4 separate regions of the Homo sapiens genome follow, and all the other regions are linked to region 2. The links come from fine-mapping of genetic effects on gene expression. A gene starts in region 2. Each other region holds a variant in brackets. All regions are shown on one strand. Distances are from middle to middle. Region 1 overlaps LINC00539 (long intergenic non-protein coding RNA 539). Region 2 holds the start of LINC00539 (long intergenic non-protein coding RNA 539). Region 3 overlaps LINC00539 (long intergenic non-protein coding RNA 539). Region 4 overlaps LINC00539 (long intergenic non-protein coding RNA 539).

Region 1 (7,224 bases), 24 kb before region 2:
ACCACATGTGTGAGTTATTTCTGGGCTTTCTGTTCTTTTCCATTGTTCTATGTGTCTGTTTTTATGCCAGTACATGTTATTTTGGTTACTATAACTTTGTAATATATTTTGAAATCAGAGCGGGTAATGCCTCCAGCTTTGTTCTTCTTGCTCAAGATTGCTTTGGCTACTTGGGTGTTTTGTAGTTCCATATGATTTTTTTTTTTTTTTTTTTTTTTTTGACAGAGTCTTGCTCTGTGGCCCAGGCTGGAGTGCAGTCCAGCAATCTCGGCTCACAGCAACCTCTGCCTCCCAGGTTCAAGTGATTCTCCTGCCTCAGCCCCCCAAGTAGTTGGGATTACAGGCATCTGCCACCATGCCCAGCTAACTTTTCTATTTTTAGCAGAGGTGGGGTTTTACCATGTTTGCCAGGCTGGTCTCAAACTCCTGACCTCAAGTGAGCCACCCACTTTGGCCTCCCAAAATGCTGGAATTAGAGGTGAGAGCCACTGTACCTGGCTGCATATGAATTTTAGAGTAGTTTTTTCTATTTCTGTAAAGGACATCATTGGGATTTTGATAGGGATTGCTTTGCATCTGTAAATCAGTTTGGGTAGTTTAGACATTTCAACAATATTAATTATTTCAGTCAACATGGGTATCTTTCCACTTATCTGTATCTTCTTTAACTTCCTTCATTGTTGTTACAATTTCCGTGTACAAGTGTTTCATCTCTTTGGTTAAATTTATTTTTAAGTATTCTCATCTTTTTTGTGAATGGGATTATTTTCTTGATTTCCTTGTCAGCTAACTGTTTATGTATAGAAATGCACCTGATTTGCATATATTGATTTTATATCCTGCAACTTTACTGAATGTATTTATTAGCTGTAACAGTTTTTGGTTGAGTCTTTAGGGGGTTCTATGTATATAACCATATCATCCATTTCAAATAGGGATAATTTTACTTCTTCCTTTCCAACTTGGATGTCTTTCTTTTTCTTGTCTCATTGTTCTGGCTATGATTTCTAGCACTATGTTGAATAGAAGTGGTGAGCGTGGACATCCTTGCCTTGTGCCAGATCTTAGAGGGAAAGCTTTCAGTTTTTCCCCATTGATTTTGACGTTAGCTGCTATCACACTATTTTTTAATGTTCACCTCTGGTTCCCCTTTGTCACAGAACCTTCCCAAATGACCCATACAGCAGGCCCCTTTTTCTGAATGTCCATAAAATTCATCTTCTGTAACCTTCATTTGACACATCTTTTACGTCATCCTGTATTGTTCCTAAGTCAAATGTGAAGTCTGAAAGGTGTGAACCACATCTCGCCATCTGGGAGTAGACAGCATGAGCAGAGGAGAAAGACAGGGTCAGAAGCCAAAAGGCTGATGAGTTAATGGGTGCAGCACACCAACATGGCACATGTATACATATGCCATACAAACCTGCACGTTGTGCACATGTACCCTAAAACTTAAAGTATAATAATAATAAAATAAAAGAAAAATACGGAAAAAAAAAAAAGAAGCCAAAAGGCTGCACTTCAGTCCCACCCAACTGGGAGACATCAGGCAAGTTCCTGAACTTCCATGACCTTCATTTTCTCCACAAAATGGGGTAAATCCACAACTCTAAACCTAGCCATTATAAAAATAAAAAGCAACATAACAGTAAAAACAACTCAATTAAAAATGGACAAAGAACTTAAATAGACATCTCTCCAAAGATGATATACAAATGGCCGATAAGCACATGAAAAGATGCTCAACATCGCCAATCATTAGGGAAATGCAAATGAAAACTACAATGAGATACCTTTTCACACCCATTAGAATGACTATTATGGAAAAAAAAAGAACCAGAAAGAAAACCCAGAAAATAACAAGTGTGGACAAGGACGTGGAGAAATTGGAACACTTTCACATTGCTGGTGGGTATGTAAAATAGTAAAATGATGAAGCTACTGTAGAAAAAAAGTTACAGCAATTCCTCAAAAAAATTAAACATGGAATTACTGTATGATCCAGCAGTCCCACTTCTGGAAATTATCTCCCGAAATTGAAAGCAGGATCTCAGGCAGATCCTTTTACACTCATGTTCATAGTAGCAGTATTCACAATAGGCAAAAGATGGAAGCAACCCAAGTGTTCATCAACCGATGATGAATAAACAAAATGTGGCCTAGCCATAGAATGGAATATTACTGAGCCTTTAAAGGGAAGGAAATTCCAACACATACTATACCACACGGATGGCCCTTGAGAACATTATGCTCGGTGAAATAAGCCCGTCACAAAAGGACAAACGCAGGCGATGGCTGGGGAGGCGGGGCGGGAGAGGTGGGGGAGTGGGTGGCAGCCGCCGCGCTGGGAGCCGAGCAGAGCCGCGCCGATCGCCATCCGGCCTGGGCACTCGCGCGCGATCCCGGCCGGCAGCGCGGCCCATGGAGCTCGAGAACATCGTAGCGGACACGGTGCTCCTCAAGGCCCGGGAAGGTAGCGGTGGAAATCGCAAAGGCAAAAGCAAGAAATGGCGGCAGATGCTCCAGTTCCCCCACATCAGCCAGTGCGAAGAGCTGCGGCTCAGTCTCGAACGTGACTATCACAGCCTGTGCGAGCGGCAGCCCATCGGGCGCCTGCTGTTCTGAGAGTTCTGTGCCACCAGGCCGGAGCTGAGCCGTTGCATCGCCTTCCAGGATGGGATGGCCGAGTATGAAGCGACCCCGGATGAGAAGCGGAAGGCATGTGGGCGGCGGCTAATGCAGAATTTTCTTGAGCCACAGGTTCCTGACCTCATCCCTGAGGTCCCCCCGGCAGCTGGTGACGAACTGCACCCAGCGGCTGGAGCAGGGGCCCTGCAAAGAACTCTCCCAGGAACTCACCCGGGTGACCCACGGGTACCTGAGCATGGCCCCTTTTGCCGACTACCTCAACAGCATCTACTTCAACCGTTTCCTGCAGTGGAAGTGGCTGGAAAGGCAGCCAGTGACCAAAAATACCTTCAGGCAGTACCGAGTCCTGGGCAAAGGTGGCTTTGGGGAGGTGTGCGCCTGCCAGGTGCGGGCCACAGGCAAGATGTACGCCTTCAAGAAGCTAGAAAAAAAGCGGATCAAGAAGCAGAAAGGGGAGGCCATGGCGCTGAACGAGAAGCAGATCCTGGAGAGAGTGAACAGTAGGTTTATAGTGAGCTTGGCCTACACCTGTGAGACCAAGGAGGCGCTGTGCCTGGTGCTGACGCTGATGAACGGGGGCGACCTCAATTTCCACATCTGCCACATGGGCCGGGCTGGCTTCCCCGAAGCGCAGGCCGTCTTCTACGTCCCGAGATCTGCTTGCGGTCTGGAGGACCTGCACCGGGAGCGCATAGTGTACAGGGACCTGAAGCCAGGAACATCTTGCTGGATGACCACGGCCACATCCTCGTCTCCGACCTGGGACTGGCTGTGCACGTGCCCGAGGGCCAGACCATCAAAGGCCGTGTGGGCACCGTGAGCTACATGGCTCCAGAGGTGGTGAAGAATGAACCGTACACTTTCAGCTCTGACTGTTGGGCGCTAGGCTGCCTCCCGCAGGAGATGATTGCAGGCCAGTCGCTCTTCCAGCAGAGGAAGAAGATGATCAAGCGGGAGGAGGTGGAGCGGCTGGTGAAGGAGGACCCCGAGGAGTATTCCGAGCGCTTTTCCCCGCAGGCCTGCTCACAGCTCCTCTGCAAGGACCCCGCTGAACGCCTGGGGTGTCGTGGGGGCAGTGCCCGCGAAGTGAAGGAGCACCCCCTGTTGAAGAAGCTGAACTTCAAGCGGGTGGGAGCCGGCATGCTGGAGCCGCCCTTCAAGCCTGACCCTCGGGCCATTTACTGCAAGGATATTCTGGACATTAAACAGTTCTCTAGGGTCAAGGGTGTGGAGCTGGAGGCTACCGACCAAGACTTCTACCAGAAGTTTGCCACAGGCAGTGTGCCCATCCCCTGGCAGAAGGGGATGGTGGAGACTGAGTGCTTCCAGGAGCTGAATGTCTTTGGGCTGGATGGCTCAGTTCCCCCAGACCTGGACTGGAAGGGCCAGCCACCTGCAAGGGACTGCTGCAGAGACTCTTCAGTCGCCAAAGGATTGCTGTGGAAACTGCGGGGACAGCGAGGAAGAGCTCCCTACCCGCCTCTAGCCCCCAGCCAGAGGCCCCCACGGGCAGTGGGCGGTAGTAGCTACTCCGAGTGCCTTTTACAGTTTTGCACAGTGGACTTCCCCATTGTCCACTCAAGTTGTGGCCTGGGGAACACAGACGGAACTGTCCCCAGTGTCCTCTGCCCCCTCAGCCCCTGGCCTGCCTGAGTTTGGCAGGGCCTGGGCCATCCCTGGGACAAAGGTGCGTCCCTTCAGCTCTTCTCCGTGGAGCTCGGGGCTTTCTGTATTTATGTATTTGTACCAATGTATATAGTGACCAGGGCATTCTTAGTTCCTGCCACAGACCTGGCGCCCCCTCCTTGGCTCCTGGGGGCAGCCAGCCCTGGCTGGGAGAGCGGGAGCTGGCAGAGGAGCCACTGCCAAACTTAAGGCTCCTCCGACCCAGCTTGGATGGCTGAGGATCACACCCCTGAGCCTTCAGCACGGTGCTGACCACCCCTAGCCTCTGAGTAAGACTTGTGCCTGCCCCTGCTGCCCTGGACTCAGGCTTCTGCCCTCTGGGGACTAAAGCTGTCCCTTCTCAGTACTTGTCAGAGCTGGATCTGGGGCCTGTATATCCCCTAGGCCTGTGCCAAAGTGGCCAGAGATTGGGCCGGCTGTGAGACCCATCAGCCCACTGCCCCGGCCGGCCCAGATAGGTCTGCCTCTACCTTCCAGCTCCCAGGGCCTGGTCCCTGATGCTTTCAGGGACGTTTCAGAAACGCCCGAGCCCAGCCCCTAGGAGGGGGTGGGGCATCCCTGGCCAACCCTCAAACATTCCCAACTCCTCTCATAACACTAGACACATGTGCCCAGCAAAAAAAAAAAGGACAAATGCTTCGTGATTTCACTTATATGAGGCACCTAAAGTAGTGAAATTCATAGAGACAGAAAGTAGAATGTTGGTTGTCGGGAGCTGGGGGCAGTGGGGAATAGGGAGATATTGTTTAATGAGGGCAGAGTTTCAGTTGGGGAAGATAAAAATGTTCTGAAGATGGATGGTGTGGATGGTGGTGATGGCTGTGCCATACATAATGTGAAAGTACTTAATGTTCTTGAACTGTGCACTTAAAATGGTTAAATGGTAAATTTTATGTTATGTATATTTTGCTGCAAAAACCCACTTATACAATATAAGGTGACATTATTCCTGATATTTTCTTACCTCTCCCCCTCATACACCCACCCCTACTGCTGTGCATATTCCAGATTTTGATAAACACTTGCTAAACCAATGCTGTCCTCACAGAACATACCCTCCTCTCCTCTTCCTCCCCTGCCCATCTGCATAGACGTGTAGTTGGCCAGCTTACCTGAATAGATCTTTTAAATCAAACCAGTCTAAATATTTGTAATGTGACAAAACATAAAAAGGGATGGAGAAAGCGAGGGAGAGACGGGTGTGCCTC[A/G]TGCATTCATGGATTTGTATTTATACTCCAATGATCTTGTTATTTTTAAAGTCTGCTAAAGCTGGTTCCACCTGCAGGTTTCTTTTGGTGTCCTAAATCTGTGTGTGCATTCTCCACATGCTTGGAGTCAGCGTACATGAGCTGTTTGTCCCCCAGCTGGCTTTTTGCAGTGGAAGAGGCGCAAACAGAATCCGCAGCACGTAGGACAGGGAGCCTGAAATCCCACGCCGCACAGCACTCAGTGTGTGCAGGAGCTGAGGGAAGCAATAAGACCTAATAACCTCATCCATTCTCCTAATTGCTTTCTTCTCCTCACAGAGGAGCCACATCAGCAGCTCTGGTGACCCTCAGGGAAATCTCTGCTTGTTATGAGGTTGGTGGGCCATCCTTTCATCACTGTGAAATGCTGGCAGTTTGTGTCAACAAATCGAATTTCAGTCAATCAATAGGCACCCCGCCTCTCAGCTTGGCAGAGCTGCACAGCTGGCCTTCCTTCCCTCCCATCTGCTGCCCATGCCCTGGAGCCCTGGCAGCAAGAACCACTGCTGCCCGTGGCGTGGGAGAATGCCCAGGCAGCCAGGTCAGACTGGATGTGGCAGACAGCAATTGACAAGGCTGGTTCCACCACCAGAGAGTCACAGCCCACTGGAAACACACCATGTTGTACAGGGTGGAAGCGCCAGCTTTGTGCAGATGGACTTGGGTACAGGTCTGATTCTGCCACTTTGGGCTGTATGGCCTTGAACTTCAAGGCAAGTTCTTCACCTCTTTGAACTCTACCTTCCTTAGTTATAAAGCGGGGATGCTACTGCTGCCTGCTGCAGGATTGTTAGGAAAAGTGTTATAATGCATGCAAAGTGCTTTGTCCAGTCCCTGGCACACAGTAGAGAGAGAGAGAGAGAGAGAGTGTGTGTGTGTGTATGTCACTGTGATCTGCCAAGTCTTACAAGCCAAATAGGGCAATAAATGGCAACTACTGCGGATTTTACAATCATCATTAGCATCATCATCATTATTATTGTCATGTTGAGTGTTGCACAGAAAACAGCCTAGAACCAGCCTACGTGGTTCTATCAATGCAGGATGAGAATATTCAGCCTCCAGTTCATGAAGGTTCACTAAGCAGAGATGTACACTGGATGATCACCAGCGTGTACAAAAAATAAATACTATAGTATCTTCATCAGAGGGCTGCCATTGGCCTCAGGAGGGCATTCCCAGGTAGAAGTGCCTCAGGAGGTTTGTTCTGTTGCCTGGCCCAACATCCTATAGGGAAGGAGCCCAATAGTGGCTCCTTGAAATTTCTGCATTCTCTGGAAGCCAGAAAAAGCAAAGACCTCCTGGCAATTGAGTTCTCTTGCTTGTAGGGGAGATCACAGCTTCGTAGATAGACGGCTGTTTCCCTTTGGGTGATAGAGGTCCCTGCTGGGCAACAAAGAATTAAACACAAATCTATTTCTTGCCAGTAGTTGTCACACCTAATAGATTGGGATGAGATACCACTGCATTAGTGTGTGAATTTCCCCAGATGAAGGCAGCAGCAAAGCCCTTTAGAACAAGCCACAGAAGGACAGAAACAAACTAATCAGGGAATGCACAGCTTCACACAAGATCCAGGGGCTTCTGACATGGGAGGAACACAAAAGTTTTAACTAACCAAGGATGCAAACATTCCCCC
Region 2 (7,825 bases):
TTTTTGATTCAGAGACGTTTGCTCTAGGTTGTTCTTGGTTCACTCTTTTGCAGAATCCTGGAATCAGGGGAGCTCTGGGACCTTGTAGTCCAAGGCCCCTCTGGGGGCAAGAAGCCCCTCTGGAGCCCCACCTGACCCAAGCTTCTCCTGCCTTCTCCTGAATCGATGGCTTTGCCTGGCCAAGCCTTGTCCCTATTTTCCACAGCTCTGGCTATCCAGTGACTGTCCTTTTCCTCAAGCCTAAAAGGGTCTCTCCTTCAATTCCACCCAGTAGCACTGAGGCTTGGAAGAGGCTCCAGAGAGGGCTATGGTCAGAGCAGGTGGGACCAGGGTTTAGCTCATCCTGGATGCATGTAGCCCAGCAAGGGAATATCCAAACCTTGGGGACTGCGTGTCCAAGAAGTTCCTACTGCAGCATAGCAAAGCCAACCTTCCCAAGTGTCCCCAGTGGCCCAGAATCACAGCCAACCAACCCCCCTCCCCTGACAACTGTGTCAACTGTGCTGACTTCACCCCCAAACTCTAGTTCTGGAGTTTCCAAGGCAGGACAGAGTGTGCTAGCCTCCGGCTGGAGTCCATGTTTCAGATATCCAACTGCATCTCTATTAAATCCAGCCTGGAGTACTCATCCTATGTCCCAGCCCTAGAGGGGAGGACGGCAGCAAATTCCGAGAGGATTTTCCTCACCAGAGCTTACAGGAGAACAGACATTCAAGGCTGCTCAAGAAGCAGGTGGCTGCTGTTGTTGTTTTTTGTTTTTTTGTTTTGTTTTGAGACAGAGCCTTGTTCTGTTGTCCAGGCTGGAGTGCAGTGGCGCCATCTCAGCTCACTGCAACCTCTGCCTCCTGGGTTCAAGCGATTCTCCTTCCTCAGCCTCCTGAGTAGCTGGGATCACAGGCGCCCGCCAACACCCCTGGCTAATTTTGGTATTTTAGTAGAGACGGGGTTTCACCGTGTTGGCCAGGCTGGTCTCGAACTCCTGACCTCAAGTGGTCTGTCTGTCTCGGCCTCCCAAAGTGCTGGGATTACAGGCATGAGCCACCGCACCTGGCCCGCCTGCTGTTGTTTGACAATGTTGGGTATTCTTAGGGATCCAACTCTAGTTTTTAGGAAATGAACACAAATATTCATTTTTCACAACAGCCAACAATTATTTCCTTTATAAGTTCACATTCACAACCATTTTCCCACTCTAAAATTGGCACAAATTTGAAAAGCATGATATATAAAACCGGTGAGGATATTGTGAGGTAAACACTCTCATTCACTGATGACGTGAATTTAAACGAGAACAAGCTTTTTAAACAGCAATGGCAAAATGCATTCAGAGTTTAAAGCATCTATTCCATTTGGCTCAATTCTATACATGCACGGAAACAAAGCAAAAAACAAGGAAAATGCAACCCCCGCCCCCTCCCAAATCAAAGAACAAACAGGAGCTTTTTCAGGCCTCAAGTGAAGCAAGGCACGAGTCTCTCTGAGGAATCCCCGCCCATAAGACCTGGGAAGGTCACAGCCTTCACGCTGGCTCAAGGGGTTCTCCCCAGCAGGAACCCAGGCTGCTCCTCCCGGGACTGTGGCTGACAGGTAGGGAGCGCTCATAAGTCATAGCGGATATTATCACTACAGGGGTCCCTAACATCTCAGTGAACCCCCACTGTCAGGGAAACTGAGAAACTGTGAATGCAGCCCCAAAGCCTGTGAGAGACCACGTGTGGGCTCAGAGCCTCCCCGTCACCTCAGAAGGCCAGGGAGCCCAGAGGCCAAGCAGGGACTTCGGCAGGACCCGTCCAGTGGACCCCAAGTCGCCCTGTCACTCAGCAACCATACCCCAGCCCCAGGTGGCAGAGGAGGGCAGCCCCTGGGCGGGACAGTCTCGCCAGGCCACCAAGGCTCCTCAGCGCTTAGGCCCCTCGCATGATCCCACAGTCAGTTCACCCTCAAGCTCTCCATGGTCCCAAGTCCTCTGTCCTCAGCCTTCTCTACTGGGCTCATTTCAGGTAATTTGTTTTTGTTTTGTTTTCCCTTCTCATTTTCTTGCTCCCTCTGAGAGACTAATGTTCTAACAAAGATGTGCTGCTGGAACGAGGCATTAATTTCAATAGTCACCTAAAAGCAATTGCCTAGGAAATATCTCATTTTCCCATTAAACGCCGCAGAGGAGAAGCCTCGGGTGACTCCTCTCTCCCGCTCCCTGGCCCCCTCCTTCTCTGTTCTCCACCCCCTCCCCTCTTCCAAAAACTCGTTACAACCTGGACACTATTTCCACTCCCTGTTCTAAAATGCTGCCCTGGGCAGATAGATGAGCCCACTTGGCCTCTGGCCAGCACATGCCCCACAGGTAATTTTGTGGAAATCAAGCTGGGACAGAAGGGGTGTCTTTTTGGGAGCACAGGCAGGTGGCTCAGCTTGGTTCTCTGGGCTGGGGGCAGGGGCAGGCAGGAGGAGCAGGTGGGTCCCCCGAGGTCTCCTTTTGACGATGGGATGTAGCCTATGGGAGGGATGTGTTTCCAGGTCCTCCCTGGCCTTGTGAGACATCCCCACAGAGGCCCCTGTCAGGGGAAGCTGTGATCAGGGGTCAGAGCCTGGCACACATGTCACTGTTGACTTGAAAAAGTTGATTGAGCAAGAGAAGGGGTCTCAGTCCTCCCCTAGGCTCCCCTGTGTCTCCGTGGGGTGCCCAGGCCCTGACCACCCCCAACCGAGGCAGGCTCTTCTCTTGCACTCTGTTACCTTGACAAGCTGTCATCTGACCTCCCTCCAAAAAAAATTCATGATAACCTTCTCCCAGGGCTAATAATAATTATTATTCTATTTTTAATAATTAATATGATAATGTAATTAATATATAATTATTACATATAATAATATAAGTAAATATTAATAACTATAATATAATTAATAATTATTATTATTAAAAACAGCTGTTTGAAAGCCTTTTGATGTGAGACAGACATCCCTAGCTGTGTTTCAGCAGTACTTGTCAATCTCTGTATGCGTAGGTACCATTATCACCACCACAGTCCCCAGTTCACAGAGGAGGAGCTGAGGCCCTCAGAGGCTCCATAATGTCCCCTAAAGCCACACAATCTTGGCCCAAGATTTGCTTGGCCCAGGGGCCTGGACGCTTGATCTCATAGATGGTCTGTCCATGTAGCTTGCAACACTCAAGAAGTCCCTCTCCAGTGAGGGAGCTCTGAACCCTGGCAGTGAGGCCTCTCAGTGAGGGGGCTTCTGAGCCCTGGCAGTGAGAAGCTCTCTGTGACCAGGGGACCCACCCTGCAACCTCCCCACCATTCCATAGCTGCCAGCACCTGTGCCCACTTCGAAGCTTAACCCTGAATGATAAGAGAGACCAGGAGCCAACAGCTTTACGTACGTTACTAATGAGCCTCAGAACAAACTCACAAAAAAATCTTATTCCTACTTCACAAACAAGAAGTTGAGGATCAGAGAGGTTAACTCAAATGACAAAGTCACACAGCTTTTAAGTCCCCTGCTCTTGGCACCAGACTCAGCAGCTTTGATGTGTTTGTTCTCTTCCTCCCTGTTTTTATTGAGGGCTTCTGAGGTGCCCTCCTTCTCCATCTCCTCCCTTCTCCTTCTTCTCCTCCTCCCCCTCCCCCCCGCCTCCTCCTCCTCTTCCTTCTTCTTCTCCTCTCCCTCTCCTCCTCCTTCTCCTTCTCCTCCTTCTCCTTCTCCTTTCTCTTTTTTAAATTTAAGAGATGGGGTCCCACTCTGTCACCCAAGCTGGAGTGCAATGGAATGATCACAGCTCACTGCAGCCTCAACCTCCCAGGCTCAAGCAGTCCTCCCACCTCAGCCTCCAGAGTAGCTGGGAATATAGGCACACCTCACTACACCTAGCTAATTTTTAAATTTTTTTGTAGAGACAGGGTCTTTCTGTGTTGCCCAAGCTGGTCTTGAACTCCTGGGTTCAAGTGATCTGCTCCCCCTCAGCCTCCCAAAGTGCTAGGATTACAGGACTGAGCCACCATGCCCGGCCAAGTCACCCTTCTTGAACTTTGATTCACCAAGCTCTTCAGTCCAATTTTACACAAGTGTGAACTCAGGTGTGTGCTTGTGATTCTTTGTTCACACACAGCCAAGTTGGCACAAGAAGGTGAAACAGAGAAAGGCCTCAGTGTTTTTGGCCAAGCCCACAGAAGGCCACCTAAGCAGGCTGGATGCTGCCCAGGGCTGGGCCACAGCGTGTCCTTTGTAAGTCAGCCATCCCAGCCCCCGAACCCCACACACACACAAAGACACACACTTACCCCAGGAGCAGCCCCACAGTGCAAAGGAGCCCACACAGCGGCTAATGGCTGCTCAGGTTTGTGTGATCTGTCTGGGTTCAGGCACAACCTCCAGGGGCCTCTGGCCCAGGTTGCATCTTTCCTGCAGAGCAGAAAAAGCACAGTTAAGAAAACCCCAAGAAGGCAGTCAGTTTCCTCCCTTGAGTTTCTGGGGTGGACTTCCGGCAGAGTTTTTGGAGGACTGACTGTTGCAGTTAAACAATGTGTCTGGCAAGAAGCGAGACTTCCTCCCTTCCTGCTGCCTGGCTCATGGGGCTGCAGCCTCCTTCTGGAGGTGGCAAGAAAGAACTGTGGAGTCCGCGATCTAAGGGATCCCTGGCAGCCCACGGCAGCCAGAGAACCACATCCGCTGGAGAACTCTAGGTTCTCTACGGCCTCTTGTTACTGCCAGTGCTTGTGTGGCTTGAGGTGGGTAATGCGGCAGCCTCCTGCAGCTAGCCCAGGACTGGGCAGCATGGGGCCAGGTAGTTAGTGTAGGAGAGTGAGCCCAAGCTTGGAAAGCAAGACTTGGCTCTGTCACTGGGCAACCGGGCAACCTTTTTTTGGTTTGGTTTTGTTTTGTTGTTTTTGAGACAGAGTCTTGCTCTATTGCCCAGGCTGGAGTGCAGTGGCATGCTCAAGTCCTGCCTCCCTGGTTCAAGCGATTCTCCTGCCTCAGCCTCCTGAGTAGCTGGGACTACGGGCATGTGCCACCACGCCTGGCTGATTTTTATATTTTTTATTGACGGGGTTTTGTCATGTTGGCCAGGCTGTCCTCAAACTCCTCCCCTCAAGTAATCTGCCCTCCTCGGCCTCCCAAGTGCTGGGATTACAGGCATGAGCCACTGCGCCCAGCCTGGGCAACCTTGAAGAAGTTACTTAGCTTCTCTGAGCCTCAGTTTCCTCATCTGTATAATGGAAGCAATAGTGTCCGTTTTGCAGGGCTAGTATGCCTGGTAAATGAGAATCCTCATAAGAGCCTAGAAATAATAGTGTCATAATGCAGGTGGTTCTACTATTACCAGTGACTAGTATTTGTTGAACACTGACCATAGACTAAGTTTTGTACTGAGCGTTTTATATTTATTGTCCCATTTAGTCCTCCAAAAAATCTAATGAGATATGACCATCCCCAGCTTACAAATAAGAAAACTGAAACTCAAAAAGACCAGCAAGTGACCCCAGAGAACTGCACAAGGATCTGCAGAGAGTGAGCAACAGGAGCCGAAGCCGTGGGCTCATACCAGGCTCTCTTCCTGCCTCTTAAGCCCATGGCACATTTGGAGGGTGCTACCTGAATTGAATGGGTGTGCCTGTTGTTTTGAAGTTGGGGTCTACGGCCATACCACCCTGAACGTGCCGGATCTCGTCTGAAGTTGAGGATAGGCATCATCTTTCACTTCAAAATGAAGAAACGGAGGCATTGGGAGGTTAAGTCACACATAGCCAGCAAGTGGCAGAGAGTGAAAGGAACCAGCATTGATGAGCGCCTACTGTATGCCAAACACTGTGCTTACTTCAAGATCCTGTGATCTGCTGGGTGGTTTTGGAGATGTTGGAGTTTCATTGACTTCCTACACTGCCCTGAAGAGGTCTTATTAGTATTAGCCCCATTTTACAGAGAAGGGAACTGAAGCTCCGTGCATGTAATTAGACTCCGAAGGCTGTTGATGGATGGGGAAGGAGAGGGTCCCTCTCTGCTTTTAAGGAATGCATGGACAGTTATGATTCTGGCCTGAGAAGGAAATGGAAGGGGCTCTGTGCCCGTCCCACATATCCTGCCCCACACCCAGGGCCTCATGGATCCCACCAGGGGAGGCTCCTGGCTTCCCAACAGAGGAAGGCATCACTTCAGAAAGGGCTGTCCCCTCAGGCCTTCTGTAGGTGGCCGGTGGGGTCTAAGTGTGTGTGCCCTTCACTCCCCGCTTCATTCCCCTCATCCTCCCTGTGCTCCTGTAATGCCCACTGGACCACTGGAGAGCCCCCGCAGACGGCAAACAGCAGCAGAGCACACAACCAGCCCTCTCAGGTCTAGTAAAAGTGAGCTTCCTACAGAAATGCACAGGGGACTGAGATGAGAGTCGAGCAGGCCTGGAAGGATCCCGGGGAACAAACAATGCTGCAGGGAAGATGGAGGCCCCCTCGGCAAGCCGTCCTTTCTGGCCCCCGAGGAGCCCTGGGGTGGACCCTGGTCACTGTCTTGAACATGTGACTCTAGTCTTTTTCCTCATTTTCAATATCAGTAAAATGAACTTAAGCATGTGTTCCACAATGCGAAGGTTTATTGATTTATAAATTCTATAAATGTGCTACTGAGCTAATAAATGCATCACAAATGACATAAAAGTTGATATTTTACTAGGATAATAGGAAATCACAACTAGAATTTCTGATATCTTCTTCCTACGCCCCCAGCATTTTGTGGTGTGCCCCCTCTGGGCCTTGGGAAAGTGATACAGAGCCTGCAGAGCCTGGTACTATGCTAGGGTCTGGCTGTAATGGGACACTGCCCTTTCCTGCAAGAGGCCATTGAGCAAGGCATTTGGCACAGGCTTTGGGGTCAGACAGAAGTGGGTTCTGATCTCATCTCTGCCTCTGAGGAGCAGTGTGGCCTGGGCAATGACTTACCACCTGGAGCCTCCATTTCCTCATCACAAAATGGGGGAGATAATCTTCCTGTGCAGAGGTGATGAGATGATGACTGCAAAGACACAGCACGGTGCGTGCCACAGAGGAGGTGGGGTTCAGTCGATAGTCCTGAATCCTCCTGCTTACCAACGAGCTCCCGGTTCCCACCCATGCCAGGGAGGTCAGTAGGCAGCCTGGGTGCCTGAAGGTCCGTCCTAAGGATGAAGTCTAAATGGGGAGAACGGATGACTTGGGAGAGACGTCCCCACAGCTCCTCCTTGGCTCTGGGCACAGCCTTTCCCATGAGTGGTAAGTCGCGTTCCTATGGCTCCAGGTAGAATTCCACAAAAGGAAACATACACATACACAATCTTTATTTCATCCCTCTTCTGGCGTCCTCCCAGTTCTACTCACCCGTTTGTGAGTCCCTTTGATGACTTAGAAAGCACAGTAGAGCCAGCATAATCATTCTGCAGTGGTAGAATCTATTTTTGGCCTGGAATAGCCCCATGGACAGGAGACCTGTACTGTCCCCCATTAAGGGGACTCCCCATCCTATGCCATTTATCAGGACTGACACAGCCCTCATGAGGCCGCCAAAGAGACAGGACACCTCCCAAGCCACAGCTGCAGCCCGGAGAGGGAAACATACAAGCTCCCCACCTGGAGGCAGCCTCTTCCTGAGTGAGTGGCAGGCTGCCCCGCCATCAAGTTGTCAGAGTCATTCATCCAGGGCAGCATGGAGGAAGCCGCTGTTGACCGCTTCGCCCACGCCCCGGAGTGGCTCTGAGGCGCTCCTGTGGCCTGGGACAGAATGTTTCTGTGAACAGCAGCCCATGGCCAGGCAAGCACAGAACATCTCCCCTGGAAGACCTGCATTCAAAGGGCCACCAAATTAAACT
Region 3 (7,825 bases), 15 kb before region 2:
CTTAACCGGACTCTCTGATTGCAATCTCACTCTCCTCTACCCATCACTGGTTTCAGAGAGATTTTTCTGAAATCCAAATTTGACCTTGGCACTCCTTGCTTACCACCTTCAATCACCCACCAGCATTGATGTGAAGGTTTTTTTTATGTGATTAACATTTAAATCAGTAAACTTTGAGTAAAGCAAATGACCCTTCATAATGTGGGTGGGCCTCATTCAATCAGTAAAAGGCTTTAAGAGAAAAGACTGAGGTCCCCTGAAGAAGTGGGAATTCTGCCTCCAAATTGCCTTCAGACTTGAGCTGCAACATCAGCTCTTCTGTGGGTCTGCAGATTTTGAACTTGCCAGCCCCACAATCACATGATCCACTTTCTTAACTCTCTCTCTCTCTGTGTATCTGTGTGTGTGTGTATGTGTATACATAGCATATACATAACATATACATACATAAACATATGTATTTCCTGTTGGTCCTGCTTCTTTGACTAGCCTTGACTAACAGAACCATCAGACCCAGGCTACTCCATCCTGTGGCTCCACAATCCATAATATGTTAACTCTGGGTCAGAGCTGGCTGCTTGGGCACCAGACATGGTAGCTCCATTCCAGACAGCTGGAGAGAGGAAGGGACCTAAAAAGACATATTCCCTTATTTTAGGGACACTTCCTGGAAGTAGAACATGACCATCCCATTGGCCAGAACTTAGTCACATCTAGTTGCAAGGGAATTGGGAACATAGTCATGATTCCAGAACCATGCGCCCAGCTAAAAATCAGGAGGTTTTATATCATGGTAGAAAGGGGGAACAGACATGGCGCTACAGCAGGAGACAGTATCTGCTACAAATACCAAACGAAGGGCGCTGGCAATGAGCATTTTAGAGGTTAAGGGGAGATTTAATGCGGGCAGGGTCCGGCAGAGAGGGGCTGCACAGTGCAAGGGGACCGGGGCTGACTTTGAAGGAAGGGCTACTCCGCCCAATTACGAGAACACGTGAGCACCCTTGCCCCAGAGTGAGCATCAACACCGTGATCACGGTTATCACGTGGGAGGTCTGCCCAGGATCCCGGCAGTGAGGCTGCCCTGGAGGCAGGCTTGCTCCGCCACAGGCGCGCAGGCAACAGCAGCGGAGCCGAGAATGGCGAGGCCAGCGGGCGACCAGGCCTCCGGCCAAGGGCACGCGACCCCCCGCGCTTCCCGAGTGCTCCCCTGAAGCCTGGTACGCGTGGGCACCGGCGCACGGCGGTGCCCCGGAAACGCAGCCATCGCCTCAGGGCAGCCACTCACCGATGCGGTAATGCCCCAACGGGGCGTTTCATTGGCCAGCTCTCTTTCAGGCTCCAACTATTTCTTAGATTTTTTTTAAGGAATTGCAAATAGGCCTAAACAAAATCCAGATGCGAGGGAAGGGATGCCTGAACACAGATGGGTGGGAGAACACGCCCCGAGGTGCTGCTTTGGCAGAGAAGCCCTGTCTGCGAGCCCCGAGGCGGAGATGGCTCCCCAAGCCTGATGCAGACAAGAGAGCCCGCCCCTCCCCTGTCCCGCACCTGCTGAACTTTGGGGTCAGCAGAGGAATGTCCCCCGCTGTTAATGTTTTGTTTTTACTGTTTTACAATTCACATTTCGTGCTGCAGGGTGTACCGTGAAGCTACAACAGGGACAGACAGGTTTGTAGGAAGCGGCATTTCCCAAAAGCAACCTCTGAACCTTTTATTCCCGGAGCACATCACAGGTCCAGCGTTCCATAGAACACACCCTAGAAAAACGCTCCTGTGGAGGATCCGTCCCGCCAGGATCCCCAGCTGGTCAGGAATGCTGGGAGGGCCTCCTCACTCGGGCTATTCTCCCTCCCACACATTCATCTGAGGGGACAGGCTCTGGTTAGTTAGAAAATTGTAACATAGCAAGGTAGGAGCAGCAGCCCCTTGTCACCTTAGGCTCCAACTGAGGGTGGGAGGTGGGAGGTGGGGTTGGGCGGTTTGGGGATGGGAAACCTGGCTCTGCCTCCCTTCCTCCCATTTGCACCACAGAGCTGGATCCCAGGTGGCCAGATCCCCTGCAACCGACAATGATTGAGGACCTTCTCAGCGCCAGCTCTTTAGGTGCTGGAGACATATTCTGCACTGAAGGTGCTCCCTGAAAGGACTAAGAAACAGAGAAAGAAGCAGGTCATTGCAATACAGTGTGCTGGGTACAAGAGTCGAGG[C/T]GTAATGTCAGATATGAGAGTGACTCAAGGGAATGATCTTGTTTGGGGGAGGTGGGCAAGCAGGAGGAGCTGTGGCAGAAGGCGATCAGAGAGGATAAAGACAAAGGTATGTGTTCGAGATTGTCAAATGAAAGCCATGCACAGTCCAGGGGCTTCAGGAATATTCTCATCTCAGGGAATCGGATCTGGAATCTGGGAATCAGGCTCTTGTTCTCCTGGGATAAGAGCGAGCCTGGGAGTAAAATGAATCACCAGTGCTCCTGGAGAGGCGTGGGAATCCTGGGCTGGTGCAGGCCCTCCCTGCTATTAATACTGCAGCTCCCAGATTCTGCTTGAAACCATAGAGAGAGCTTTGGTCAGAGGCCAGCAAGCCCCTCAGCCCCAAGCAGGAGTAGGCAAAATGCATGGTAGTGGCCCAGGAGCCTGGGGTGTCAGTGGTGCGGTAGTGTCTTTGTAGTGGTGGCACAGGGCTGAAGTGGTAAGAGGCTGGGAACAAGATGAAGCAGACAAGGTGAAAGGGGATGAAACAGGAGGAAAAGAGAGAGAAGGAGAGGGCAGTCTGCTGCAGTCCCAGTGCCCTGGGGATCAGTAACTTTGCATCCTGGCCCTAGCCCCACTTATTACTGCCTGTGTGACGTTGGGCCAGTCATCTGTGCTCTGGGCCAGCTCCCTTAGCTATAGAATGAGGTGCGGAGAGAAGCTGTGATCTCTACAGCCCCCTCTTCCTCAAGTGGCATGAACACTCTCTTTTTCTGGAAGGTCCCTTACCAACTGCTGGCAACCACTGCGAAGAGCAGTGGGCAGGTGGGTGCAGATGGCAGTGGTGCTGATGAGGGGTTGGGGGTGCTGGCACCTCAGGATAACTCAAAAGCGGTGCAGGCTGAAGCCCTTCCTCCCTCCTTCCTTCTACCTCCTGCCTGCTGAGCCCCCCAGGACCCAGCAGCTAATGTAATCGTCTCCTGGAATGCCCCATAATGGCCCTGCAGCAGTTTCTGCAGGCTCCGCCTCTCTGCAGGCAGCAGTCTGCGAGTTCAGAGGAAAATGAGCTCCCTGCTCTCGGGAAGGTGAAGTCAGCCTAGGACAGCGGCAGGACTGCAGCTCCCTCTGGACAAGGGGCCTGTGCAGCAGACCTCACCAGGTACCTTTCCCCACAGAACCTACACAGAAGCACAAGGTCCTTTGCTCCTTCTTTGATAAGGTGTCCTCTCTCGTGGTTGATTTCAAACTGTGTTGAGCTAAGAACCCTTTCTTTAAATGAAAGGTGTTATGGAAGCCTAAACAACACATTATTCAATAACGATTTCTTGAAATAAGTGTGTGTCAAATGCAGTGTCGAGAACTGGGTACCTGGTGGTAACCCAAACAGACTTTATCTCTGCCTTCATAGAGCTTGCTTTAGTGGGCAAATACAGCCATAAATGAGTAAATATTTACTAACTCTTCATTATGGTCAGTGTCGTGAAGGAAAAAAATGTGGGATGGCCTTTCGGTTGCATTATTAGGAACGATTTCCAGGTCAGGAAGTGATGCTTCTGCACCCAGCAGTACCTGTCAGTGTGAAATCTGGGGTGGAGACCAGGTCAGAGCTTTGGATGGCTGATGACACCCAGGAGGAAGAGGCAGCCTCTACACGCAGGTGGGACAGTGAGCCCCTGCCTTGTGGTCTGTGCTGAGCTTCCCCACAATGCAAGCCAAGGCATCAGCTCCCACCCACACCCCAAGGGACCTGCAGGAAACCAGGCTGCATTTCAACAACAAGCAGAAAGCACAGAGCTTTACACACAATCTAAATACATCAACCATTTGAAGATGCTAAACTCCATACAAGAGCATCACCAGACTCCACAAAAGAAAAAACTTATAACTGAGGAAACCGAGCTAATAGTCAAATCAGAACAGAAACTTATAATCTGTATACTTCGTATTTTGGAGAGATGTGGGTGGGTATCTATATGTCAAATGAGAGGAGATCATTACAATCAAGAGCTGGCAATTATGAAAAGAAACAGTGAAATTCCTGGGAGTGAAAAATATCAGTATTCAAAAATCTTTCTGGCTATAGTGAGGAGAATGAATTGCAAGGAGGTAAGACACACTTTAGCCAGGTAAGAGATGGTCGTGGCTTTGGCTAGGGTGGAGGCAGAGGAAAGGGAGAAGAGTAGATGGATTCAGAATACAGTTTGAAGAGTCAGCAGGACTTGCTAACCTCTTCAGCATTTGAGTGTGAGGATGAGGGAGAAGGAGCCCTCAGGGACGATGTCTGGAATGAACACAGAGCTGCCCCGGTTAAAGATGCTCAGGGATTATAATGCAGGGCCCCTGCAGAGACTGCGAAGGCCTCTTTACCCCTTTCCCTGCATCAAAATGAGGTAGCCCTGCCATCATACAATCCTCAAACTGCACCCTTCTTTCTCCTTATCCTATCCTTACCAGACACCCAGAGGGTTTGAAAGCAAGAGCCAAGCTGCATCCAGCACTGAAGGACCACTCTACTTATTCCTCCCTGATGTCTTCAGGGAGAGTCTGGCTGGTGAGGGAGGGAAATGTGACTGTTACAAGTTGGGTTCCCTTGAAAGCAGACTCTAAGATGGAGTTTTTTGTGTAGAATGCCTATTAAGGGGTCAACACCTGTGTAAAGAGGAGGAAGCAGTATGCAGAAACAGAAATTGAGCCAAGGTCAAAGAGAGCCTTGGTCAGTCCCACAGGTGCAGGGCTTGGAAGCTCAAATGGCCCTTCAGAGTTGTTTTAAGTTGGTCTGAGATGGCCAGATCTTTATGTGTCCACATCAATCAGTTGTTAGATTTGGGTGCCATGGGCAGGGGTGTGACATCAGTAAGGCTGCTCTCTGCAGCCCAGGCAACCTCTGTGTGCCAGCAGCACTCTGCACCACTGGGACTGCAAGTCCTTATTGAGGGGATCTACGTGGCACTTTACAGTGTTCACCATAGTGCCCAAGGCCAAGGTAGCCTCTCACGTGGCTTGAGGTACAGCCTTGTACATACCACGTTGTACCTTGTATGTACCTGGTCTGAGGTCATTCCTAAACATTACTGGGGAAAACCAGAAGTTCAGAAGCAAGGAGAGACCTAATTAAAACCAAGGAGACTATATATTAAGGTAGAAGAGTAAGGAATGGCTTTATATTAATACATAGTCAGCATAAAGCTGAAAACACTCACCCGTGGCAGACGGCATCATCTAGGAAGAATGTCTGGAAATTGATATTCTGCAGTTCAGATTTTACCAGTTCACAACGTAAATATCCTGTTGAGAAAAGCAAGTCTCACTCAGTTGATAAATATAACTCTCTCTGCTGCTTTCATTTCAGTTTCGAAATGACCAGGCTGGCAGTTGGCTGAGCCAGTCTCTTAGAACCCTTTGAAGCACTGGATGCAGGCTGATGAGCTGCCATAAACGTCTTTGAGTCCCAACACTGCTCAGGAACTGCATATCATACCAAAGTCTGCCTGTGTGATCCTTTAATTTGTGAATGTAAAAACTGAGGTGGGAGGCAAATACTGATGTTCTCAAAGACCCGTCTCAGCTATTCCATTCAAACAGAGCCCAGAATCTTCAAAATTCTGCTTCTTCAGCTTACCTCCTGTCTCAGGCTGGTTCCCCAGAAGCATCCCAGAGATGCAGATTTGTGAGAAAGTGATGTGTTGGGCAGTGTCCCCTGCAGGGAAGTGAGGATGCAAGACAGTGAGAAGGAAGCCAAGCAAGAGTGCAATGTCAAGCAAGGTCCCGTGCTTGCAGGGCACTGGCTCCTCCCACAGAGGAGATTTGGAGACTGAGAGCCCCTCCCTCCATTGGTCAAGGGCCATCTCAGAGGGATGCATGTTTCTAGGTATCCCCCACTCTCTCTGCACACAGGTAAAGGAGACTCCAGAAGCATGAGGGCAGCCCTCTCACAAAGAAGCATGGGTTCTGGATACCGAGAGTAAAAGCAAACGTGGAGCCAAGGGGTGTGAAAATGGGAAAGGGACCCAAGGAAATAGAGTAGTGCATCCACCATGAGTAAGTGCCACAGTCACTGGGTCAGCACCTGCTGTGTCCAACACCATGCTAAGTATCGTGGAGAGGAGAGAAGTTACTAGACTTCCCTGCTGTCATCCTTAATGGACTATTGTCTCTTCCCTAGACACCTCAAACTGGGATTTAAGGTACATAAGCTCTCAGAAATGGCTTCCTGGAATTATGGCCATGAACATCAGTGAACTGTTAGGGTCCGTAGTTACATCTGGAAAATGACTGCCGTTTCAATACACAGGATTAGTTACAATAACAGCAACAGCCATAATAATAATGTGGCAGAGACTAGCTTGATGCTCATCACATCTCTACCTGGGCACATAGCAAAGTTTTCTATTCCAGCTCCCACCCTGGATCTCGGGTCCTAGTTCTCAACAACGAAATGCTTCCAAGCCAAGTTAAAGCAGCCACAACTTTCAAACGAAAACCTAAAGATCCTGTGTTGAAGACAGTGGCACCTTAAAATGCAAGGGCAGTATCCTTGAGTCCTCAGGTCACCAGAAAGCCACCCGATCAGGACCATCGACACTAGACTCTGTGTTAGTGAGAAACAAACTTGTGTTAAGCCATCATGATTTTAAAGTTGTTAGCAGTCAGCTTGCTCCAATAGGATGAACACTAATAAACATAGCGGTAACAACCTGCTGGGTAGTATCATTATTCTCACTTTGTTGGTGAGGAACTTGAGGCCCAAAATGGTCAGAAAGTTAGCAGATGGCAGAGCTGGTATTTCAAGTCTATTTTTTAATCCCTATCTTGCACTCCTTGGTCACGTAAACCTTGTGTGAATATGTTTGATGCTTTAATGGAGCAAAGAGGAGAATATTAAAATACCAGGTTTCTTGGGTGGGATGTGGAGTGAGGAGGAAGAACACAAAACGGAAAGGCTCCACGCATCAGAAGCCAAGCTTTGGGCACTCCACAGTTTTGCTAAAGACTTCCCTGTCTGCTCACATCTGGTCTGTTCCCCAGTATCCTCACTGTATTAAAGTTGTTTCTTTGTCATATTTTGCTCTTTTTTCTGGTGTGATTCTATCAATTACTTGCTACCAAGGAGAAGAAATGAGATGATCAAAGGGGCATCCCCCAAATCCCCAAGGCTGTGCCCCTCAAGTTCAAGAAGAGAAAGCAGAGAACTCTTGTTTAACATGGACGTGTTAGTCGCTGTCCCCTCTGCCATCCCCCAACTTCGTTGTTCATAGAACTCTGATTTTGTTCATCTTATTCCAAGTTACCAAGTCCTTTAGGGAAGGCTAGGCTGCCCTCTTACCCAGGACTGAGAGTTCATGGTTGAAGCTAGAGAGGACGGAGTGATTTCCCCTGCTAAACAATTGGTTCAGGCATGTGACGCAATTGGGCCAATGGAGCTAAAAAAGGAAATCTGCTGATGGGGCTTCTGGGAAGGTTTCTCTTGGAAAAAAAAAGAAAAAGCCACAAGATAAAAATGTTTGCTTTTCTGCCTCTGGACTTGGGCTCTGTGTGTTGTTCCTGGAACCAAAGCACCTTGGGTCCATTAAGACAGCAGCCTATGAGGATAAACCAGAACACTGGGGATGGCAGGGTAGAAACATCGAAATAACCTG
Region 4 (7,825 bases), 33 kb before region 2:
CTTGCGTAATGGGACAGAACGGGGCCCTGCAGAGTGCAGACACTGGGCATGCTGACAGGGCTGAAAGTGGGGACTCCCTGGGAGAAAGCTTTGCCTCTCGGGGAAAGGCCCCTGGGAAGGAGTCAGCAGTGGGCTGCCTGCTCGAGGCTCTCTGCATGCTGTGTCCTGCCGAATTAGACGTGGGCTGGTCTCATGGACAAGCACTCTTCATTTTGTGGGAGGACAAATACAGACTGAAGTATGGGCTTTATCTCAGGGTCTTCCAACATAAAACATACTACTGGGAGATTTCCTTAAACCTCTGCAGTGGGGGCAGTGCGGGCAGCCTCTGAGCTACTGTTCCTTTGCCATGGAGTGGCTCCGTGGGTGAGCAGGTTGGGAGGAGGTAGGCCTCCACACTCACTCTCTCCCTGACTTCTGGGATCCATGTGTGGGAGTCTGGCCCTTCTTGGTGAGTGTTTTTTGATGGGTAATGACTATCTACGTTTCACTAGCATTCGGGAAGGCCCATGTGAATGGTAACAGAAACCCTTCGATTGATGTAAATCTTCAGTGTTTTTATCTTGAACCAACTGAGGAACAGGAGTATCCTTGAGTCTCTGAGTAGGAACTGGTGGGTGGTTCTTACAAGAAAGAGATGAATCTGAACTATAAGGAAGCTTATAATAGAGTTATTTTCTATTACTTTTTCCTCATCTAGTTTTCTTTTGACATTTTAGACCATTAGGACATCTTGACCAAGCTCTAGGGGAAAGGGGTAGAGAGGAAAAAGAAAAGAGTAAAGCCTCTTGGTACAGACTATGTTTGAAGTTTCGTTCCTCAAACGTGTGAACTTGTGCACGCAATACAGCAAGGGAGACACGGGAATGATAAAGAAGGATAAGACGTGAAAGATACAGTCTAACTGCTAATATTGTTTCGTGTATGTACCTTTTAATAAGAGTAAAGCTTCCCAGCTAAATTGGGTTGGGGCTCTCGGTGGAATTTCCGATATCAGCTAGTACAAGAGAAAGTGGAGCCAGGGGTGGGTGGGCTGGGAATGGCATTCAGCCAGGCTGGGGACTTGCTGGAAAGGCAAATTCTCAGGCTGTATTCCAGGAGTACTCGGGACTGGTCCCAGTGCTGTTTTAACCAACGCTCCAGGTGATTCTGAGCACTCGCTAGTTGGAGAACCACTGGGTTAGGGAGCTAAGGTCTCTCAACGCTGCTTGAGAAGGGCTGCCACAACCGCCAGTGAAGGAGATGGGTTGAGTGATTGCCCAGGGGCACTGGGCTGGTACCAGGAAGGGTGTGGATTTGAGGCCAAGCCTTCCAATTCTAAGTCCAGGGACTTTTATACTCTGCCAAATAATACTAGAAACAAACAAAATCTCCTGTCTCACCCAACCTTTTAAATTTAACATGTGAATTAACTTAGCTCCATAAAAACAATAAACTACACTTGGGTCTTTAATATAGAAAACAGAACAAACTGTTTAACACCCTGAGAAGATTCAGCTTCCTCACTTGGGCTAATATTGTTAATTTAGTTTTGTTGGGGGAATTAGCCACCTCTTGCTTTGATGGGTTCTATTCTTTCTACCCTGCCCTGCCCAGCATGAGGAATAATCTCTAGTCCCGCAGTGGTGTAGAGCTCTGTCTATTCTGGGATGAGACTGGACTTTCTTGTCTTTTGTTCAGGCAGGAGCAATGGCATTGAAAAGTTGAAAGACAAATAAAGTCAGCAGGAGATAGACTTTTGAGATTCTAGCTTTTGAAGCTAAACAGATTGATCTAAGGAATTCAGTCTTTTTCTGATTCTTTGTATTGTTAACATCATCTTTGCCTGCATGTGAGTGACTTCTGGCCACCGAGGGGCTGCACTTCAGCCTGTGGCCATGTGGGAGGCATTTTCTTCCTTTTGGCTGAAGCTTTGGGTAGGATGGGAGTTAGGGAAGGTGGGGAATGGGTGGCACAACCCTCTGCCTGTAGCATTTAACCCACACAGTGGGCTTGGTGACATCCTAGCGATTTGATGTATTCCACCCCTAGAATCCAACCTTTCCTGTCATTACGGCCAGACATTATACACTCAGGGCATAAATATGCTGCACATAGAAGCTATAGGGAAGCAATTGATACTGGGGAGATCCATTCTGTAATAATTGTGACTTGACCAGTTAGAAATATTACCCAGGGGCAAGCATTCTTAGAAATGTTTGACCATTAAGTTTCTTAAACCATTAAGAACCACCACTTTTTCTTAAATTTCTTTCCCCCCAGTATATATTTTAACACCTTTTAAATTCCCATAGAAAGTGCTAATTCCCTTACTATAAATTGTAAGAGAGGTATACGTAGTGGGTGGGAATAGCTGAAATTTGCCAAATTTATCAAATTTGCTGACCCATTTGAAAGGTGTGGCTTAAAGATGTACTTTTCACTCATGACCAGCTCAGTTGAGTTGGGGAGGTTCTGCCTTTCACCATGGACTCCAAGTTCTTCATTTGGGCTGGGCATGGTGGCTCATGCCTGTAATCCAGCACTTTGGGAGGCCAAGACAGGCAGATCACTCAAGCCCAGGAGTTCAAGGCCAGCTTAGGCAACATGGTGAAACCTCCTCTTTATAAAAAATACAAACATTAGCCGGGAGTGGTGGCATGCGACTGTAGTGTGAGCTACTTTGGCTGAGGTGGGAGGATAGCTTGAGCCTGGGAGGTCAAGGTTGCAGTGAGCTGTGATCACGCTACAGCATTCCAGCCTGGGTGACAAAGTGATACTTCGTCTCAAAAAATAAATAAATAAGTTAAAGTCCTTTTTTGATACTCTGCATCCTGACAGCTAATGATAACAGACATAGAGTGTGGATGATAATTCTGTAGGACACTTTAAGGGCATGATCTGGAAGTGGCTGACATCAATTTTGCCCACATTTTATTATGCAGAACTCCTTACATAGCCTCACTTAGATTAGAAAAAGTTAAAAAAAAAAAAAAGTTTTCCTGGTGCCCAGAGGGAAAATGAAATGTTTTGGTGAACACGTAGAATGGTTTCTGCCATAGGTTTTATGACTCATGAATGGTTAGGAAACATTGCCGTGGGCATTCATGTGTGAAAGGATATGTTTTGCAGAGTATCATGATTTAGTTTGTCAGGCCAGCTGGGTCACAGAGGAGTTGTTAGAATGGAGTCAGAGTGGTAGCGTATTTCTCTAAAACAATCTTGAAAGATTCTGATTTCTCTAGGAGATCTCTCCAGCAAGATTTGTGGGGCTTAGCATTCTGTGTTCTCCCAACATCTTTCATCACTAAAACTCTGGAGGAGAAAAAAATATCAGGAAGATTCCAAGTACTTGCCGCTCTCTGGGTGAGAATAACTACCTTGAGGAACATGAAGAAGACATCTTTCGCAGTATTTTTTCTACAGTTTTGGAGGGCAGGGCGTGGGTCTAGAGTTACCTCAAACTTGAAAGTGAGAATTGAACCATGCTTCTGACAGCACCGCCTAAAGGAAGTGAGGTGTTGTAACTTGGTTACTTGGCATTTGGTATTTGTCGCTGTTTGTTCCATAAAAAGTTTTGGAAGTGTTGGTAGATGTAGCTAACATTTGGTCTACTGCTATAAAGGATGTCGAGACCTCCAGTCAGATTTGTGGTTTTCCATTACCTGGGTACCACAGGAAGTCCTCACCTGAGGGGACTACTTACAGGATGACTTTTGTCCTTCACA[A/G]GATGCATCCTCACATCCCCTCATTGCCTTCAGCCCACTAGTTAAGGTCCATTATCTGCAAAACCCCAGAGAAGGAAATGAAGTCCCATTGCAAAGGCAGTTGATGAAAGCTCTTCACCAAGTATTTGATGACTGGTTTACTCATCAGGAGTTGAAGGGCCTAATTCTTACCAGGAGAAGTCAGAGAAACACATAGGGGGCAGATCTTGAGAGTTTTGGGTCAGGAGGTTTGGGTATTATACATAAGATTGACTAGGGAAGGTCTACTGACTCTATCCTATAATTCACTGTCCTCAAAAGGACAATTGTGCCTATCCTAATAATGCTGGTCAGAGGTTTCTTGAAGCTTGGATAAGATGACAGCCTTATCATCTTTCCCTGGGGGAAAGATGCCATATTTGCCATGGCATGGTATTGAGGAAGGAGTCAGACAGTCCAGGGAGGTTTTATTATGCAAGACCAGAGACCCTGATCTTGTTCCCTGTGAGGCCAAGAGGACATGCCCTTTATACAAAAACAAGAAACTCACTGGTGAGGGGCCACCAGCATTGTTGGGAATCTCACTAGTGATTGTCTTCCGTGGTCTATGGTTCACAGTAGAAAATGCTGCCACAGAACTGACCTCTCTAATATTACTGAAGATGAAGATATTTTGGAGTAGCAGAGGCCAAGTCGCAGCATTTGCCATCAAAGTGAATATGACTACCACAAAGTGAATATGACTACCATATGGCAGCAAGGCCAACGTGCCAGCCAGGGTCCTGTACACATAGGGCATTTCTAGAAGAAAGATGGGTGAGTACCCACTGTGAATATTTCTTGACTTGTGTAACCAGAAAAAATATTAAGAGAAGGTAAGCTGAAATCTGATGTCTGCTGCCAAAAAGAAAAATGATAATCCCTCACCTAGCTCCCAGATTTGAGTCAGTTCTCGGGCCCCTGGCCTAGTGATTGAAGGGGAGGCCGGGCCCCCTTGAAAAAAAAACCCTGCAGTGCCACAAACCTTCCCCCAAAGGGACCTGTGTAACTTTACACTAAGAAAATGGAAATATACAGATTTTTCAGGGTATACAGGGTCTAACCTTACAATGACATCAGCAGAACCTGAAATGCCACGATGACAGCTAGTTAGAATGGGCTATTATGGAGGCGGGTGATAAATGGAGTTCTTGTCAAGGCAGGCTCAGCAGTGATGATGAGGGTGTTAGGGCTCACCCTGTCTTTGCTTCCTCAGTTCCAGTGTGCTCAATTGGAAAGGATAGACTGAGCAGCTGGTAGAGCCCTCACGTTTTGTTTCCTGACCTGTGAAATAAGAACCAGGAAGGAAGAAACAAATGGAAACCCAGAAAGTGCCCATTCCCACCAAAGATAGAAAATCAAAGCGATACCCTATTCCAGTGGAATGGCTGAGATCGATGCCACTCCCAAGAACTTAGCAAATGCAGGGGTGGTCATCCTCATCATATCCCCATTCAATCCATCTACATGGTCTCTGCAAAAAACAGATGGATTTTCGTGAATAACAGCAGACTACCGGAACGTTATCTAAGTTGCGTCCCAATTGTATGTAGCTACCTAATTGGATGTGGTATCTTTACTGGAACAGAGCAGCACAGCCTTTGGTTCCTGGGTTGTGGCTATCCATCTGGCAAACAAGTCATCTTCCAACCTCCTCAGGAAGGATGGTCAAGATCAGTTCTGTCTCATTAAGAAAGGATTTGAGTACACATTCACTGTCTTTCCCCAAGGCTATATGTATTCTCTTTCTCTCTGTCACCTTGACATATCATGCTGGTATACTATGTTGTTGACATTATGCTAATTGGACTTGGTGAACAGAAAGTGGCCGGTACTCTGGATGTCATAGTAAAACACATGAAGGTGAAACATAAATCATTTACAGTATCAAAGTCCTGCCATATTGATGAAGATTTTAGGAGTCCCATGGTTTGCAGCATCCTAAGGTAAACAATTACCCCTATGAAAAGTTATATGGTTTGGTGGGCGACTTTGGATTTTAGGAGGCAGCCAATATTGCACTTGAGATTATTTCTTTGACTCATTTCTTGGGTCATTAGAAGTCTACCAGTTTTGAGTGGAACCCAAAGCATAAGAAAACTGAAGAAATTCTAGGCTTCAGGACAACATACTCTGCTGTTGAGGCCATATAATTCAACAGATCCAACAGTGCTCGGGGTATCCATGGTAGGAAAGGATGCTATAGGAAATCTTGGACAAACCCTAATAGATTTGCAGTACAGAATGGGTAGGGTTCTGGAGAAAGGCATGTCTACTCCATTCAAGAGACTATTTATTGTTTAATTACTCACTACTCAGAAAAACAGCTTCTGATGTGATAAGGGGTCAAGAGAGATCAAGCACCTGAAAGTGGGACATCAAGTGATTATATGATAGGAGTTTCCTATTACGAGCTGGACATTGTCAGATCCAACAAGGTGGTAAGGTATGATGGAAATGGTATATTCAGGACCAGATCTGAGCAAGTCCAGAGGGTATAGGGTGGCCCAGGGCTCCATGTCACCTACCTCTGCTGTCCTGACATGTCTCTCAGCTCACATCTATAAATATGGGGGCAGGAGTGAGGGAACTCTATGATTCACTGATGAAGGAGGAACAACACAGCTCATTCCTGGTTCATGGATAGATTGGTTCAGATACTCAATGCTGCCTGAGAATGGGCAGCTGTCAACACTACCACCCAACTCAGTGGTGGCCCTAAAGGACAGTGATGAGGGGAAACCCTCCTAGAGGGTAGAGCTGTGAGCAGTATTCTTGTTTGTCCACTTTGTATGCCAGAAGTGGTATGAGATAAGGATATATATGGACTTCCATGTAGTGGCAAATAACTTGGCTGGTCTTGGTCTGGGGTTTAGAAGGGGCAAGTTTAGATGATCAGAGACAAAGTGGTCTGGGAAGAAGCATGTAGATGAACTGTTGAAAGTGGCCACAAAATGTGCAGATCTTTGTGTCTCACATCATTGCCACTAGAGAAGATTTGGCACAGACAGGACACTCACTAAGCAGGTAGACAGAGGAACCGGCTAACTGGCTGGTAGATGTCAGTCATCTCTGTCCCCAGCCACCCCAATTCTTGTACAATAGATCCTTGAGTGGAGAGTGGCCATAGTGACAGGGAAGGCCATTATTCAAGGCCTCATCCGTCATCCAGCATGCACTCCTTTTCACCAAGACAGTTGGTAAATTTATTATTTATTTATTACCAAATAAATAAATGTATTAGATCTAAAAAATCTATTAGATAGATAAATGTATTAGATACAGGATTTTAGAGCTGACAATGTGAGGTATAATATATAAAAGCTTAGAAAAGCGTAGGGAGACATCTGTCTTTTTCCTTTGCATTGACAGCATGTGCTTGCATCAGCTCTGTGTGTGTGTGTGTGTGTGTGTGTGTGTGTGTGTGGACTGTAGAAAGAAATCACTACATCCAGACTGTGCTATAGTATTTTTTCTCTTATTGGTAGGGGCTAAATCAGTCTCCCCTCCCCGTGCAAGAAAGAGATGTTGAAATCTTAACTCTCAGTACCTCAGAACTGACTTCATTAGGAAACAGGATTGTTGCAAATGTATACTTAAATTAAGATGAGGTCATACTGGAGTAGGGTGGGCCCTGGTCTGACATGACTGATGTCCTTACAGAAAGACAGCCACGGGCTGGGCACGGTGGCTCACGCCTGTAATCCCAACACTTTGGGAGGCCAAGGTGAGTGAATCATGAGGTCAGGAGTTTGAGACCAGCCTGGCTAAGATGGTGAAACCCAGTCTCTACTAAAAATACAAAAAAATTAGTTGGGCACGGTGGCAGGCACTTGTAATCCCAGCTACTCGGGAGGCTGAGGCAAGAGAATCACCTGAACCTGGGAGGCAGAGGTTGCAGCAAGCCGAGATTGCACCACTGCACTCTAGCCAGGGCAACAGAGCAAGACTCTGTCTTAAAAAAAACAAAAAACAAACAAAAACAAGAAAAGAAAAGAATGAAAGACAGCCCTGTGAAAACAGAGACACACACAGGGAGAATGCCATGTGACAACAGAGGCAGAGACTGAGGTTATGCAGCTGCAAGCCAAGAAATGCCA

What was found. PIP is the estimated chance that this variant, and not a neighbour inherited with it, causes the effect.
Region 1: its variant is the best candidate, but not a certain one, in a credible set for the expression of LINC00539 in whole blood (INTERVAL, PIP 0.67).
Region 3: its variant is the best candidate, but not a certain one, in a credible set for the expression of LINC00539 in whole blood (INTERVAL, PIP 0.64).
Region 4: its variant is the best candidate, but not a certain one, in a credible set for the expression of LINC00539 in whole blood (INTERVAL, PIP 0.74).

What each region holds. Positions count from the first base shown.
Region 1 is chr13:21,316,732-21,323,955 of GRCh38, forward strand. All of the region lies in intron 2 of LINC00539 (long intergenic non-protein coding RNA 539), which reads right to left. It also overlaps the pseudogene MIPEPP3 and the pseudogene GRK6P1. Among named protein-coding and RNA genes, the nearest start is that of LINC00539, 25 kb to the right of the region's middle. The variant A/G (reference allele first, on the strand shown) is at 5,547.
Region 2 is chr13:21,340,389-21,348,213 of GRCh38, forward strand. It overlaps LINC00539 (long intergenic non-protein coding RNA 539), which reads right to left and starts at 4,471. Exons shown (of 3, transcript NR_103841.1): 1 at 4,278-4,471. It also overlaps the pseudogene MIPEPP3. RefSeq lists an enhancer at 1,820-2,323 and a silencer at 6,209-6,412.
Region 3 is chr13:21,325,185-21,333,009 of GRCh38, forward strand. It overlaps LINC00539 (long intergenic non-protein coding RNA 539), which reads right to left. Exons shown (of 3, transcript NR_103841.1): 2 at 5,390-5,474. It also overlaps the pseudogene MIPEPP3. Among named protein-coding and RNA genes, the nearest start is that of LINC00539, 16 kb to the right of the region's middle. The variant C/T (reference allele first, on the strand shown) is at 2,211.
Region 4 is chr13:21,307,357-21,315,181 of GRCh38, forward strand. The region is part of intron 2 of LINC00539 (long intergenic non-protein coding RNA 539); the gene reads right to left. It also overlaps the pseudogene MIPEPP3. Among named protein-coding and RNA genes, the nearest start is that of LINC00539, 34 kb to the right of the region's middle. The variant A/G (reference allele first, on the strand shown) is at 3,708.